Linked DNA regions of Homo sapiens: region 2 is linked to region 1. Evidence: fine-mapped expression QTL. Tissue or cell type: whole blood. Region 1 holds a variant in brackets; the other region holds the start of a gene. All regions are shown on one strand. Distances are from middle to middle.

Region 1 (8,000 bases):
GATTGTGCAGAAGGCTCTGGGACAGAGCTGGCTTGTGGGGGATTGGGCCACTGCCTATTGGAGGCATTTGGGGGCTGTCCCAGGGGTGAGTGCACCCCAGGCTGGACCAGGTGCCCACACCTCTCCCGCCCAGCACTGGCACCTGTGAAGGGCCTCTGGAGGCTGGGTCTTCCTGCAGGCACCAGGAAGAAACCTACGAGCGCATCCTTGCTGAGGGCAGGACCCGCTCTCCACATCCTGGAAACCCAACAGAGAAAGACAGTCTCTCTGGCAGCCTCCCTGTCTTGAAGTTCGAGAAGGCTGCATTTCTAGGCTCCCACAACCTGTCTGTCCGGTTTGAAGCCGGGGCCTGAGGGCTTCAGGGTACTGATGCAGGACAGACAGCTCTGGTTCAAACCTCCCTCTGTCCGCTCCCACAGGTGTGGCCTCAGAAGACCATTCCCTCTGTAGCGTGGTAGAGGCTGGAAATTCTACTCTGCAGGATTATGATGCGGATTAAATGCAGTAATCGAGTGTTTGGCAGAGTGCCTGGTAGGGAAGGGGTTCAGTAAAGAGCTGCTCGCACCATTCTGTGCAGGGAATGCTTTAGGGCATGTTTTAGAATTTTAGAACGTGTTTCACTACATGAGTAGCTTCTTGCAGCTTTGAGGCCCTGGCATCCCTCTCCCCTGCCTGCAGGCTTCCTTGTTCACTGGGCCAAGTCCCCGCAGTAATCTTCCTAAGCATGGAGTAGACCGGGCCCTTCCTGGCCAGAACATCCCCATCTACCTTCAGGGTCTACTGCAGTGGCCAGATGTGAGCTTCTCCTCTGTCCGCTCACTCACCTTCTCTGTGCCTGTCTTGGCCCCTTCTCTGTGCCTGGCTGGCCCCATGTGGAGCAATGTTGGGGTAACAGTGTGGACCACAGACCACCCCATGCTGTCTTCCTAGGACTCATAGTCCAGTGGGGGAGACACACAGGTCTCCAGATGGTGACAACTCAGAGGGGACAGGGCTGAGACGGGGAGCCCAGAGGGTGGGGCCTGACCTACCGTGGGGATCAGGGAGGGCTTCCTGGAGAAGGCATCCCTAAGCTGAGAATTGAAGAAGTAGTAAGCAGTGAGAGCATGTACCGTGTAATGTGTAAAGGGGAGGGAGAATGTGAGGTGCTGGGAAGCACCGGGCCCTTCGGGGGACGGGAAGAATTTGGGTGTGGCCAGAGCACAGTGCCCCATGAGTGGAGAGGTCCAGATTGTCTATTTTTCTTTTCTTTTTTTTCCCCCAATGATCCTAGAAATTCTCCCAAGAGAGGTCCAGATTTTTTGACAAGGCTGAAGGGCGGCCCCTGAGACCTGACTCTACCTGTCTGCCTGGCCTTTCCTCAGTCCAGTGCGTGCACGGCCCCCTCCTCGCTCTCACGCATCATCTGTGTGCTCCTTCCCTGCCAGACAAGAACCCCTGGAGGGCAGGGACCAGTTCAGAGCCATCCCTGTCTCCCCAGTGCCAGCACAGAGCTTGGCCTGAGTAGGTTTTGGGGACTGGGCTTGGTGGCTCACACCTGTAATCCCAACATTTTGGGAGGCTGGGGCAGGAGGATCACCTGAGCCCAGGAGTTCAAGACCAACCTGTACAACATACTGAGACCCGGTCTCTACATAAAAAAAGAAAAAAAAAAAAAACTGGCCAAGCATGGTAGGGTGTGCCTGTAGTCTCAGCTACTTGGGAGGTTGAGGTGGGAGGGTCACTTGAGCCCAGGAGTGCAAGGCTGCAGTGAGCTATGATTGAGCCGCTGAACTCCAGCCTGGGTGACAGATGGGGACCCCCCAAAAAATAGGTTTTGGGAAATGTTTACCAGATGAGAGGCAAGACGGAATTCTCCTAAATTCGAAGCTTGGAATTCTCCTAAATTCGAAGCCTGAGGCAGAATGGTTGAAGCAAAAAGAGGAGATTTGTTGTCTTATGGGTCTGAAGGGTCCTGAATAGTGTGGTGTCAGGCACAGTATCTCTTTATCAAACAATATCTCTTTAATCTCTGAGCTTGGCCGGGCACAGTGGCTCACGTCTGTAATCCCAGCACTTTGGGAGGCCGAGGCGGGCGGATCATTAGGTCAAGAGCTGGAGACCATCCTGGCCAACATGGTGAAACCCCGTCTCTACTAAAAATACAAAAATTAGCCGGGTGTGGTGGCGCGTGCCTGTAGTCCCAGCTACTCAGGAGGCTGAGGCAGGAGAATTGCTTGAACCTGGGAGGCAGAGGTTGCAGTGAGCCAAGATCACACCACTGCACTCCAGCCTGGCGACAGCGAGACTCCATCTAAAAAATAAAATATCTGAGCTTGGCTTTCCTCTGAGCTGGCTTCATTCGCGGAAGGCTGTTCCCTCCTGATGGGTGCAGGGATGGCTGCCAGTAGCTCTAGAAATGGGATGCAGTCTTAACCACCCTAGTGGGAAGAGAGCTCCTCTTTCCTGAGAGTTCCATCTCAGGGCGTAGGACCGGCTGTGGCTGGCTCTGTAACCTTCCTGTCCCTGACCGATCATTGTAACAGAGGTTGTGGGACGGGGCACCTATCCACTCCTAGAACCTTTGGGGAGGACAGCGGGGAGTCAAGGTAAAGTGAAGAGGCCTATCCAGGCTCCTGGGGTGAGAGAGATTGGGTGACCAAGGCTGGTCCACCCAGGGGAAGACAGGAAGAGAAGTGGGCCATTCTGGCCTCAGACCTCTTCGTCCTTTCCCAGACCCCACGCCAAGGCAGAGCTCCCTGTGGGATGAGTTTCTCACTTGACCTGAAATCTCTACTTGTGGGGCTGCTGCAAGTGCACAGGCTTCAGGAAAGGTGGACCACACCCCCTGTGCCCCAGGCTCCTTCCCGAGGGTGTGCAGCCCACCATCCAGATAGGGGTGGATGGTGCCCAAGTCGTGGGGGCTGACAAGCATGGAGAGTCCTGCAGAGAGGCCCAGCACCGGATTCCCAGGCTGCTCCTTGAGACGCTGTCCCACATGGGCCGGTCACTCACCTGCCATGAGACTCCCAACTGGGACCTTCCCTGCAGAGCCTGTGAGGTGGAACGATGGTGATGGTGCCCCCTTGTGGGGTAGGTGCATGTGGCAGGCACAGAGTGGTGGCAGCAACTGTAACATACGGTTCTGGAGGGCAGGGACAGGGGCCCTTCCTGTGTGCCTTGTGGTGCTGAGTGCCAGGCTGGGTGAGCTCACCAAGCCCTCCCTGGGAAGGTGCTGTTGATGCAGCAGGGAGGCCCAGGGCAGTCACTGCTCTGTGCTGTTGGCGACGGAGCAGGGATTGGAACCCAGGCGCCTGGCTTCGAGGCCCGCATGCTGTGGGGAAATGGGGCTCTGCCATGTTGGTGGTTATTTATTGTCGTGAACAAGAGCTCAGGCCTGGTTTCCAGGTGTGACTTTATTGCACCCTCGCCCTACCTCCCCGGCTTGAGAATTCTGGAAAATACCACAATAAGTGTTTCTTTTCTCTTTTGAGATTATGTAAATAATACTTGCCTCCATGCTCTTAAAAGAAAATGACATCTCTATTTCCATGTGTTGCGGTGTTTCCTGGTTTGGGACCCCACCAGCTATCCAGTCACCCAGGCTTGAAGCCAGGTTCTTCCCAGCTTCTCTCTCCACCCTGCCCATCCCTGTGCATGTAGCAGTGACCAGGTCCTATCGATTATCTGATTATCTGCCGGAAGCCTCAGGAATGGGAGCCTTCTGAGTCAGCACATCACCAGGAGCACGGCCTGTGGCCAGGCTGCTCAGGGGCTGGTGATGTTGGTTTCTTTCACCTTAATGTGTGAGTTGTGTAGTAATACGGTCCTATATCACTTAATGATGACACATTCTGAGAACTGCGTCGTTAGGTGATTTCATGGTCATGTGAACATCCTAGTGGACTTACACAAACCTAGGCCTGGTCAGGCCTGGTGGCTCACACCTGTAATCCCAG[C/G]ACTGTGGGAGTTCTAGATGGGCGGATCACCTGAGGTCAGGAGTTTGAGACCAGCCTGACCAACCTGGTGAAACCCCATCTCTATTAAAAATACAAAATTAGCCTGGCGTGGTGGCGTGTGCCTGTAATCTCAGCTACTCGGAAGGCTGAGGCAGGAGGAGAATCGTTTGAACCTGGGAGGTGGAGGTTGCAGTAAGCTGAGATCATGCTATTACACTCCAGCCTGGGCAAGAAGAGTAAAACTCCATCTCAAAAAAAAAAAAAAAAAAAAAAAACCCTAGGTGGCATGCCTACTGCACACCTGGGCTACCTGGAATAGTCTAGTGCTCTTGGGCTCCACACCTGCACAGCATGTGGCTGTGCTGAGTACCCTCGGCAAGTGTAACACAGTGGTAGGTATTTGTGTATATGAACGTAGACAAGGGACAGTAAAAATATAGTGGGAAATCTTATGGGACCACCGGCTGCATATGCAGTCCATCATTGACTGAAATGGCTTTATGCGGCTTATGACTAGACCTGTATGTGCCTCAGTATTCAAAAGATGTAAAAAGGTGGACAGAGATTCAACATAAAGAAATGATCAATGTTTGGGCCGGGCGCGGTGGCTCACGCTTGTAATCCCAGCACTGTGGGAGGCCGAGGTGGGTGGATCATGAGGTCAGGAGATAGAGACCATCCTGACTAACACAGTGAAACCCTGTCTCTACTAAAAATACAAAAATTAGCCAGGTGTGGTGGCACATGCCTGTAGTTCCATCTACTAGGGAGGCTGAGGCAGGAGAATCCCTTGAACCCGGGAGGCAGAGGTTGCAGTGAGCCGAGATCGTGCCACTACACTCCAGCCTGGGCAACAGAGCGAGACTCCATCTCAAAAAAAAAAAAAAAAAAAGATAAATGTTTGAGGTGATATGCTAATTACCCTGACTCAATCCTTGTATGCATTTATCGAAATACCACATGTACCCCATAAATATGTATAATAATTATGTATTAATAAAATTAAACATTTTAAAAAATGTATATAGAGAGAAGGAAGTTTCTCTCTCCCTGTCCTCCTTTGGCTTTGCCAGCTCACCTTCCTAAAAGCAGTCACCTAGTTTATTGTATGTCCTTCTGGAAGGATCTCTGATGGAGCTTAGCTAATGACAATCCACAGCAGCCACAGCCCAGGCCAGCCGACAGAGTTTGTAAATAAAGTTTTATTTGCACATGTCCAGGCTCATTTGTTTATATACTATCTATTACTCTTTTCATGCTACAAGGCAGAGTTGAGTAGTTGCTGCAGAGCCTAGTCTGATCATTTAAGCAAAATATTGTGATGCCTGCAGCTGTGTGTGTTTAAAGTCAAGGCAGGGTGGTAGAGGCAGCGGCAGCAGCAGGCCCAGAGGCAGCGGTTGGGTTTGCAGCGAGAAGACAAGGTTGAGTCAGTGTGTTTGCGAGAGCTGGAATCGAAGCCTCTTAAAATGGCAGATGATTTGGACTTCGAGACAAGAGATGCAGGGGCCTCGGCCTCCTTCCCAATGCAGTGCTCAGCATTATGTAACACTGGCTTCGTGGTGCTCAAAGGCTGGCCCTGTAAGGTCTTTGAGATGTCTGCTTGGAAGACTGGCAAGCACAGCCGCGTCAAGGTCCACCTGGTTGGTATTGACATCTTTACTGGGAAGAAATATAAAAATAACTGCCTGTCACCTTATAATGTGGGTGTCCCCAGCATCAAAAGGAATGACTCCCAGTTGATTGGCATCCAGGAAGGTACCCCTCACTGCTCCAGGACAGCAGGGAGGTGCGAGAGGACCTTCTTCGTCTGCCAGAGGAGACCTTGGCAAGGAGATGAGCAAAAGTACCGCTGTGGAGAAGGGACCCTGATCACCGTGCTGTCTGCCATGACAGAGGAGGCAGCTGTTGCAGTCAAGGCCATGGCAAAAGAACTGGCTCCCAGGGTGACAGTGGTGGCAGCAGTGATCTTCTGAGACTGCAGAGGCCCCCTCCTCTGGCCTTCTGTAGGCTGGACTCTTCCTACACAATGTATTTGATGTTTTATTTTGTTTTTCCCACCCCTTCAATCTGTCGGGGAGCCCCTGCCCTTCACCTAGCTCCCTTGGCCAGGAACAAGCAAAGCCATGGCCTTGGTGAAGCTGCCATCCTTTTCCCTGCTCGCACTACAGCCCTGGTTGGGGGGAGACGGTGGGCGATGCTTGTGGTTTATTTATTTGAGACAGAGTCTCACTCTGTTGCCCAAGCTGGAGTGCACGGGGCACCATCTCGGCTTACTGCAACCTCCACCTCTTGGGTTAAGCAGTTCTCCTGCCTCAGCCTCCCGAGTAGCTGGGATTACAGGCACGTGCCACCATGCCAGGCTAATTTTTGTATTTTTAGTAGAGACAGGGTTTCACTATGTTGGCCAGGCTGGTCTTGAACTCCTGACCTCGTGATCTGCCCGTCTCGGCCTCCCAAAGTGCTGGGATTACAGGTGTGAGCCACTGAGCCCGGCCTTATTTATTTATTTTAATTCAATCTGGAATCAGAAAGCGGTGGATTCTGGCACATGGTCCTTGTGCCCTCCCCACTCACCCCTGGTCTGGTCCCCTGTTCCCCATGGTCCTATACCCTAAGCACGACCCCCACAGACTAAGGCCAGCCCCCTGCCGTACCTGTGCCTCTCCCCAAACCCCTTTAGATGGGGAGGGAAAAGGAGGAGCGGGGAGGGGTCCTGCCCCCATGGGCTTTACCCTTCCCTGCGGTCTCTCTCCCCAACACATTTGTTAAAATCAAACCTGAATAAAACTACAAGTTTAATATGGAAAAAAACAATAATAGTCGAGGCAGACCTGGGCCTTTTAGTCTGTACTCTTGCCTCTGTGAGCCTTGACTCTGAAAAGGGGATAGTAAAAGGATGTCTCTTGGGGTGGCTGGGGGGCTTCTGTGGGGTCCAGGCAGCACAGGACCTAACCAGCAGGGTGCCAAGCAGGGGGATGCCTGGGCTGCAGGCATTGACTCGCCTGTGTCCCACAACCCCTCTTGGAGCTGGAGCACTAGCGGGGGCTCAGCTGCCAAAACCCAGGGACAGGTGAGGCTGTCACCATCCAAGATGGCAATCTGGTGTGCCATTCCTGACTGCCAACCTGCACGATCAGGTCCCCTCCCCGTGAGTACTACAGGGGACCCCACTCCTGCAGAATACAATCCTCCCATGAGCCTGAATCCATCCTGTTGCTGCTCTGCCCCTCGCCCCCAGTGGCTCCGGTCTCCTGCAGAATGAGAGCGAAGTCCTCACCAGGGTCCACGGGGTCACCGTCCCACATCATCCCCAGTGCTCCCCTCCCGGTGTGCTTTGGCGCCGAGCCTGCTCCCACCGTCACACTTAAGCCTGCCCCAGTGGTTGCTGCCTGCCACGGGGTTTGCACAGGGACTGCGCAGTGGGCCTCCTGAATGAAGACCCAGACCTGAGCCCGGTGGGGCCTCTGGGAACACTCCTTTCAAGGCCAGCTCACCCTGGCTCCTTTCTGTTCATTCCAAAATAACAAAATAACACCTGCATTGCAAAGCGTGGTTATTCTGAGCCTGGTTGCCATCACAGTCATATGGGGACCTGTTAAAATCTGGGCCCCTGGGCCCTAGCTAGGACCTCCTGACTCTGGTGCTCTGTGAACCTGGCTCGCAGACGTCCCGATTTCATGTGGTGGACACTGGGGCATGGGAAGGTCATTTCCAGCCAGAGGTAGCATGGTTGTTACGGAGCAGCCCTAAATATTCCTGCTCCAGGCTTGTCTGGACTTCCTCCCTCCCCATCCCTCCTCTGAGAGTTGACACCCTCCCACTGTGTCCCCCAGCCCGCACAGTGTTGCTTCCTGGTGTTTTGACTCCCACTTGGATGACTGTGTCTGTTTCCCCCGCCCTGCTCCAGGCTGGCACGGATGGTGTGAGTCATCACCGCCCCCTGATGCCCAACCTGTCCTTGCATCTCTTGGGTACCATTGCACCTGTGTGCAAATGCCAGACAGACATCTCTCTGCCTGTCACCTGATGCCCGGCGTCAGGTTTCTCTCTGTCCCTTTGTGA
Region 2 (8,000 bases), 52 kb after region 1:
ATCGCGCCACTGCACTCCAGCCTGGGCGACAGAGCGAGACTCCGTCTCAAAAAAAAAAAAAAAATCAAATACATCCTTATTGAGTATGATGAAGCCTACCAAGAAAAAAGTGCGAGAGGGAGACCAGGAGAATGTATAAAGGAGATCCAAATTTGACTGGGGGCTCAGGGAAGGCATCCCTGAGGAAGGGATTGTTACGCTAAGATCTGAAGGATTAATAGTTGTTAGCATGGTGAAGATGTGACAGGTGGAATGGGCTGGGAGAAGGGAGCAGGCTCATTTCACAGGAGAGCGGAAAGCACTGGACCAGGGCAGAGGAGGGGCCACGTGAGAAAGGTATTTAGACTGACTGGGCAGAGCCTGGGGGAGGGCTGCAGGTGAGGGAGACAAGGCAGGTGTTGGGACTCCAGGGTTTCTCGTTTGAAAGCCAGGAAGGATATGGAGTGTTGGGACATTATTACCCACCCCCAGGCTGATGCATACTCCCTGGGCCATGCTGTATCTTCCTCATAGCAGTTACACAATGTACCAGACACTTTACTCATTTACTTGTCTGTCTCCTCCAATGATGACAAAGCTCCAAGAGTCCAAAAATTTTTGATGGTTCACTGAGTAATCCCCATGTTTTTTTAGAGACAGGGTCTCACTCTATCACCCAGGCTGGAGTGCAGTGGCATGATCATAGCTCACTGCAGCCTTGAACTCCTGGGCCCAGGCAATCCTCCCACCTCAGCCTCCCGAGTTCTTGGTAGTATAGGCATGTGTCATCACGCCCAGCTAATTTTAAAAATTTCTTGGCCAGGCACAGTGGCTCACACCTGTAATCCCAGCACTTTGGAAGCCCGAGGCGGGCAGATCACGAGGTCAGATCAAAACCATCCTGGCTAACATGGTGAAACCCCATCTCTACTAAAAATACAAAAAAAAAAAACAAAATTAGCCGGGTGTGGTGGCAGGCACCTGTAGTCCCAACTACTCAGGAGGCTGCGGCGGGAGAATTGCGTGAACCCAGGAGGCGGAGCTTGCAGTGAGCCAAGATTGCGCCACTGCACTCCAGCCTGGGCGACAGAGCAAGACTCTGTCTCAAAAATAAATAAATAAATAAAAATAAAAATTTCTTTTAGAGGTGAGGTCTTGCTATGTTGCCCAGGCTAGTCTTGAACGGTGGGCCTCAAGTGATCCTCCCACCTCTGCTTCCTGAGTACCTGGGATTACAGGTGCAAGTCGCCACATCTGGCTAAATGCATTTTTGATTTATGATGTTTTAAACTTATGACAGGTTTGTATCTGTATATCGAGATGGTAACAAGCAACATCCTCCCTGGGGCTTCTAACCCTGGAAGGAAACCAGAGCCAATAAAAATGTCTTACATGGCCAGGTGCGGTGGCTCACGCCTGTAATCCCAGCACTTTGGGAGGCCGAGGCGGGTGGATCACAAGGTCAGGAGTTCGACACCAGCCTGGCCAAAATGGTGAAACCCCGTATCTACTAAAAAAAAAAAAAAATTGGCCGGGTGCAGTGGCTCACGCCTGTAATCCTAGCACTTTGGGAGGCCAAGATGGGCAGATCACGAGGTCAGAAGATGGAGACCATCCTGGCTAACAGTGAAAACCCGTCTCTACTAAAAAAAATAATAATAATACAAAAAATTAGCCAGGTGTGGTGGCGCCAGCAGCGCTTGTGGTCCCAGCTACTTGGGAGGCTGAGAAGTGGGATGATCGCTTGAGCCCAGGAGGTCGAGGCAGCAGTGAGCCATGACTGCATCACTGCACTCCAGCCAGCCTGGGCGACCGAGCAGGATGCGCGTGCGCGCACACACACACACACACACACACACACAGTCCCGGGCCAGTCACGGTAGTTCACGCCTGTAATCCTAGCACTTTGGGAGGCCCAGGCGGGAGAATCACTTGAGCCTAGGGGTTCAAGACCAGCCTAGGCAACATGGCAAAACCCCATTATCTCTTTTTTTTTTTTCCTGAGACAAGTCTCGCTCTGTCGCCTAGGCTGGAGTGCAATGGCACAATCTTGGCTCACTGCAACCTCCGCCTCCCAGGTTCAAGCCATTCTCCTGTCTCAGCCTCCCGAGTAGCTGGGATTACAGGTACCCGCCATCATGCTCGGCTAATTTTTGTAGACACGGGGTTTCACCATGGCCAGGCTGGTCTTGAACTCCTGACCTCAGGTGATCCGACGGCCTCGGCCTCCCAAAGTGCTGGGAGCTACAGCGCCCAGCCGGCATATTTCATTTTATTATTTGACTCCCCTAGTGAAATGTAAGCTTCACAAGGAAGGGATTCTGTCTTAGAACGGTGCCTGGAATACAACAGACGCTCAATAAGTGGGTGTCGAATAAATAAATGTCCCACGCTGAGGCTTAGGTACGTTATGATACTCATTTTACAAAAGAGAAAACTAGGACACACAAAGATTAAGTCATTGGGTCGCACACCTAGTAAGTGGGGGAGGCGAGTCCTCAGCACACGCCCAATAACAGCATTATTATGATTACTAGCCGCTTACTCAGGCCTTGAGCTAAGTGCTTTACCCTGAATCATCGCGCTCAATTTAGCAATAACCCCGAGCCGGCACCGTCGCGAACGCCACTTTCCAAAGGAGGAAGCCAGGGCCAGACGTTGCCCTGCAAGGCCGGGGCTGGGCCGGGTTCGAACCCGGACGCCTGACGCGCCCTCCGCTCTCCCAGAGGCGTTACCTTGGTGGCCCCCGCTTCCTCCCCACGGAGCCCGGCGCTCACCCCCGGGCCGGGGTCGGGGTCGTGAGCCCACAGCTCAGCCACCATCTCCGTGTGAAGAAACTCAAACAACACAGTATCCGCCATGCCCCCTCCTCGCACGCCTAAAGATGCGCCCAGCGCTTCCAGCTCTCATTGGCCAGGCTTGGTAAGCCACGCCTCTTGCGTCATGGCGCGAGCCCTCCTACTCCGGCTTCCATTGGTGTTTTAGACTAGCCCCGCCTCCCCGCCCCGGACTCAGGTGGTGTGCGCGTGAGCCTGGGACACTAGGGGGCGGGCCTACGCCTTCTCTGGCCACATGTGGCAACATCTTCTGCTCTTACTGCCGTCCCTTCCCTATTTCCGGGTTCTCGAGCATTCCTATTGGCCAAATTACTGGTTACACGTGACATACTCGGCTTTTAAAATCCCTATTGGTCCACTCCAGACTTTCCTCGTCGCACAACCTGGAAGAGCCGGCCCAGCTGTTTCTCTATTGGCGGTTCCTCCATTCATGTGACTCTTCTGCACGCTCACTCAAAGCTGATGCTGAGAACTTGCTTCCTGATTGGTAGCCGGGCGAATCCACGTGACTTGGCCGCTAATGCCCGCCCAACCCGCTCCCCTATTGGTTGAAATCACAGCCCTTCAGCTGCCACGGTGAGAACGCAGCACTCGGGTTAGGAAGCGGATCTCGCAAGCTCCGAGCGTCAGCTGCCGGGTACGGTCTTTGGCGTTAGCGCTTCTCCCATCCCATGAGTGCCCCCAGCAGAGTCCAGTCGGACTGTCATCCTTTCTGCGACTCTGGCGCTGGTCCCGAGCAGCTCACGGGCCCGTGTGCTTCCGGGTCTGAGATTGGCATGGTGGACCAGGTGGAGGGTGTGGCCTCTACTAGGAGGCAAATTCGTAAAGACCTCGGCTTGGGACTCCGGGAACTCGGGCCCCAGATCCTTGTTCGAGCTGGTCTTCAGTTTCCCCATCTGTACGCTGAAGAGCCTGGGGTCCAGTAACCCCCATCATCACCCAGTTTACAGAAGAGGAAACTGAGGCCCAGACGGGGAGCAGCTGACACCAAGTCGTTAAGAGAATCAGCGAAGGGGCTGGGAATCCAGGACCTGCGCCTTTTACCCACCGCGGCGCCGGTCTCACGTGCAGTCCCTTCGCTCTTCTCCCCTAGTTCGGTGCCATGGCGTCCCAGGGTCGTCGGCGGAGGCCCCTGCGGAGGCCGGAGACGGTGGTGCCGGGGGAGGCGACCGAGACGGATTCCGAGCGCTCTGCGTCCTCGTCGGAGGAGGAGGAGCTGTACCTGGGTCCTTCGGGCCCGACGCGCGGCCGCCCCACGGGGCTGCGGGTGGCTGGGGAAGCCGCGGAGACCGACTCGGAGCCGGAGCCGGAGCCGGAACCGACGGCCGCGCCGAGGGACCTGCCTCCACTCGTGGTGCAGCGGGAATCGGCGGAGGAGGCCTGGGGCACGGAGGAGGCCCCGGCGCCCGCCCCCGCGCGCTCGCTCCTGCAACTTCGGCTGGCGGAGAGCCAGGCGCGGCTGGACCACGACGTGGCGGCCGCCGTGAGCGGTGTCTACCGCCGTGCAGGCCGCGACGTGGCCGCCCTGGCTAGTAGGCTGGCGGCAGCCCAGGCGGCGGGGCTGGCGGCGGCCCACAGCGTGCGCCTGGCGCGCGGGGACCTTTGTGCGCTGGCCGAGCGTCTGGACATCGTGGCTGGCTGCCGCCTGCTGCCGGACATCCGCGGCGTGCCAGGGACCGAGCCTGAGAAAGACCCGGGGCCGCGGGCCTAGCCATGATTCTACTTCCCAACCTGACTGCAATTTGGGGGTAGGCCTTGCTGCCTCTGGGACCTGACTCTGTCTCCTGTGTCTCTTATCACCCCCCACCCCCGCTCCCATCTTGGTGTCACCCATGGGGGCTAATCCGGTCCCCTTGGATAATGCTTTATATTGGATATAGTTCAACCCCTACTGCGGAGACCAGGGCCCCACTATCCTTAGATCTGGTTCCTCTCCCGATCCTGACCCTGCCGCCTGGTTCTGAGCCTTCCCCTGGGGCTTGGCTCCAGCCTTTGTTACATAGTTGCTCCTTAATCTGTTTCCACCCTGGGGGCTCACCAATTTTTTTTTTTTTTTTTTTTTTTTGGAGACAGGGTGTTTATCTGTCACCCAGGCTAGAGTGCAGTGGCGGGATTACTGCTCACTGCAACCTCGACCTCCTGGGCTCAAGTGATCCTCCCAGCTCAGCCTTCAAGAGTAGCTGGGACTGCAGACCTGCACCACCACGTCCAGCTGCCCGGTTAATTTTTTTCTGTCGGTTTGAAGAGGGGAGAAGGTCTCACTATGTTGCCCAGGCTTGTCTCAAACTCCCGGGCTCAAGCAATCCTCCCACTGTGGCGTCCCAAAGTGCTGGGGTTACAGGTGTGAGCCACCACACACTGGGCTCTGCTCTGCCTTTCTGAGTTTGGTTTCTGCTTATGGTGGGGAGCTTGTTCCCGTTCTTCCCACAAGAACCCAGGATGTGGCACAGCTTCCCTGCCGTCTTCCTTCACTCAGTTGGCTACGCCTCCCATCCTAGCTCCACTTCCAGAACTGCCTTCACCCTAGGCTGGGTCCTTGTTTTGTTTTTAGAGACAGGGTCTCACTGTGTCTCCCAGGCTGGAGTACAGTGGCGTGATCTCGGCTCACTGCCACCTCCACCTCCCGAGTTCAAGCGATTCTCCTGCCTCAGCCTCCCGAGTAGCTAGGATTACAGGCATGCACCACCACGCCTGGCTACTTTTTATATTTTTAGTAGAGATGAGGTTTCACCTTGTTGGCCAGGCTGGTCTCGAACTCCTGGCCTCAGGTGATCCACCCGCCTCACCTCCTAAAATGCTGGGATTACAGGCGTGGGCCACTGCGCCTAGCCAGCTGGGTCCTTGTTCTGCTGCCCAAGCTTGGCCCTGGTTCCGTGTGCTGGTTCTACTTTTTGTTCTCCCATCTGCCTCCTGCCTCCTCCCCTTTGAGCTTAGCCCCGCCCTCTCAGCCTGATTTCTGTTTCCCAAGTCCAGCAGTGTCGTGGGATAGGTTTTGCTTTCTTTTACTGTCTCCATCCTACTTACACCTCCCTGATCCTGGGGTCTGGGGACTCCCCATGGTTTCCTTCCTTCTGCAGGCCCAAAATGATGGCCCCTCTTAACCCAAGGCAGGGGATCTTCCTCCCAACTCCCTGGACCAAGGTGGCATTTCCTGCACACCCCTCCAGGCCAAGATGATGCTCGCTCTCAACTCTGTAGGCCAAGGTGGCGTCTCCTCTTGACTCTCCAGACCTAAAGTGACACCCTTCAGGCACTTCGGGCCCAATTCAGCCCAGTCCTGGTGCTTTCAGCGCCAGATGACAGCACTTTGCAGATAAGAACGATATGATGTGTGGATTTCACTACATTTGGCTCCTGGATGCTATAAAAGGACTTGGATTTCTGACTTGGCTCAGGGACTGGGGTTAGCAGTCTCTTTCTGCTCCTTTTCACCTGTGTTTTCTTCCGATCCCAGCTCTGGTCCCTCAGCCGCATTCATATTTACTCTCCTCTCCCAGCCTGATATCCCTGTCCCTCATCTCAACCCGAAGCCAAGATCTGAGCCCCCAAGATGGAGAATGGGGAGGAGCTTTTTATGGCGGACTGATTAAAACTCTTAAGCATTTACCCTTATGGTTAGTTCCTTTTGTTTCCCTATCTAAGCTAAGGGTGAGTTGGTTGATTTCTCTGAGAATGGGGGTCCCGAGACCTCCATGCCTGGCTTATGGAAGGTGAAGCTGTAGTTGGGAAATCAGGGGCCCTAGATTTTTGCCCTGGTTCTGTATTTACTCGTATTTTATTAATTCAACACACACGTTTTGGGTACCTGACCTGTGCTGCGGCTAGGGGTATAGCACCCAGTCCCTGCCCTCACAGAGGTCGCAGTCCAGTGGGAGAAACAGTAATAAGATGTTCTCATAGATAGTTCTAGTAATCATAATTTATAGTTTAATTTTTAAAAATAGAGATGATAGCCTGGCCAACATGGTGAAACCCTGTAGTTATTAAAAATACAAAAATTTTGGGCGATGTATCACGCCTGTAATCCTAGCACTTTGGGAGGCCGAGGCACGTGCTAGTAATTCCAGCTACTCAGGGAGCTGGGGCATGAGAATCGCTTGAACCCTGGAGGCAGAGGTTGAAGTGACCCAAGATCGTGCCACTGCACTCCAGCCCGAGCGACAGAGCAGGACTCTGTCTCAAAAATAAATAGGCCAGGCGCAGTTACGCATGTCTTTAATCCCAGCACTTTGGGAGATCGAGGTAGGCAGATCACCTGAGGTCAGGAGTTCTAGACCAGCCTGGCCAACATGGTGAAACTCTATCTCCACTAAAAATACATTAGCCAGGCGTGGTGGCACATGCCTGTAATCCCAGCTACTCGGGAGGCTGAGGCAGGAGAATCGCTTGAGCCCAGGAGGTGGAGGTTACAGTGAGCTGAGATCATGCCACTGCACTCCATCCTGGGTGAGAGTGAGACTCCATCTCAAAAATAAATAAAAAATAATTAATTTTAAAAAATAAAATAGAGACGAGCTCTCACAATGTTGCCCAAGTTGGTCTTGAACTTCTGAGCTCAAGGGATTCTCCTGTCTTGACCTCCCAAAGGGCTAGGATTACAGGCATGAGCCACTGCACCCAGCCATAATTTATAATTTAGATACAATTTTCTTGGCACCATGATTAGAGCCATGAAGAAGTAAAGGAGCTTTATGAAGGTGGAGCGGGATCCACCTGACCTAATCTGGGCGGGAGAGAGGAAGTGATGAGTGGTGCTGGAGCTGAGCCCGGAAGGTGGAAGTAGGTGAAATGGGAGTAGGGTGAAGAGTTGCAGACAGGGAGAACAGCATATGCGAGGGCCCTGAGGCAGAAGGGAAAGGGACCATAACCTGTTTAACAGAAGAAGATGATTTCTGCTCTCCACCTAGAATGGAGAAGTGTGGGGTGGTTGTGGGGCAGGGGGGTGCTGAGTGCAGTACCAGAAGGGGCCAGATAAAGGTGAGCTTTAAAAAAATTGTATTATTGGCTGTGCGCAGTGGCTCACGCCTGTAATTCCAGCACTTTGGGAGGTCGAGGCAGGCAGATCACCTGAAGTCAGGAGTTCGAGACCAGCCTGGCCAACGTGGTGAAACCCTGTCTCTACTGAAAATATAAAAATTAGGCATGGTGGCACATGCCTGTAATCCCAGCTACTCAGGAGGCTGA

The links. PIP is the estimated chance that this variant, and not a neighbour inherited with it, causes the effect.
Region 2: BLOC1S3 starts here. The variant in region 1 is fine-mapped to the expression of BLOC1S3 in whole blood (TOPMed, PIP above 0.99).

What each region holds. Positions count from the first base shown.
Region 1 is chr19:45,123,164-45,131,163 of GRCh38, forward strand. The region is part of intron 1 of PPP1R37 (protein phosphatase 1 regulatory subunit 37); the gene reads left to right. It also overlaps the pseudogene EIF5AP3. Among named protein-coding and RNA genes, the nearest start is that of NKPD1, 34 kb to the right of the region's middle. RefSeq lists enhancers at 2,842-2,981, 6,566-7,067 and a silencer at 7,088-7,382. The variant C/G (reference allele first, on the strand shown) is at 3,939.
Region 2 is chr19:45,175,379-45,183,378 of GRCh38, forward strand. BLOC1S3 (biogenesis of lysosomal organelles complex 1 subunit 3) reads left to right here and starts at 3,406. Exons shown (of 2, transcript NM_212550.5): 1 at 3,406-3,453; 2 at 3,910-6,422. The coding sequence starts at 3,919. The coding sequence ends at 4,527. TRAPPC6A (trafficking protein particle complex subunit 6A) reads right to left here and starts at 2,859. Exons shown (of 6, transcript NM_001270891.2): 1 at 2,757-2,859. The coding sequence starts at 2,840. RefSeq lists enhancers at 2,237-3,180, 3,193-3,262, 3,333-3,652, 4,193-4,693, 5,119-5,620 and silencers at 2,613-2,832, 4,003-4,312.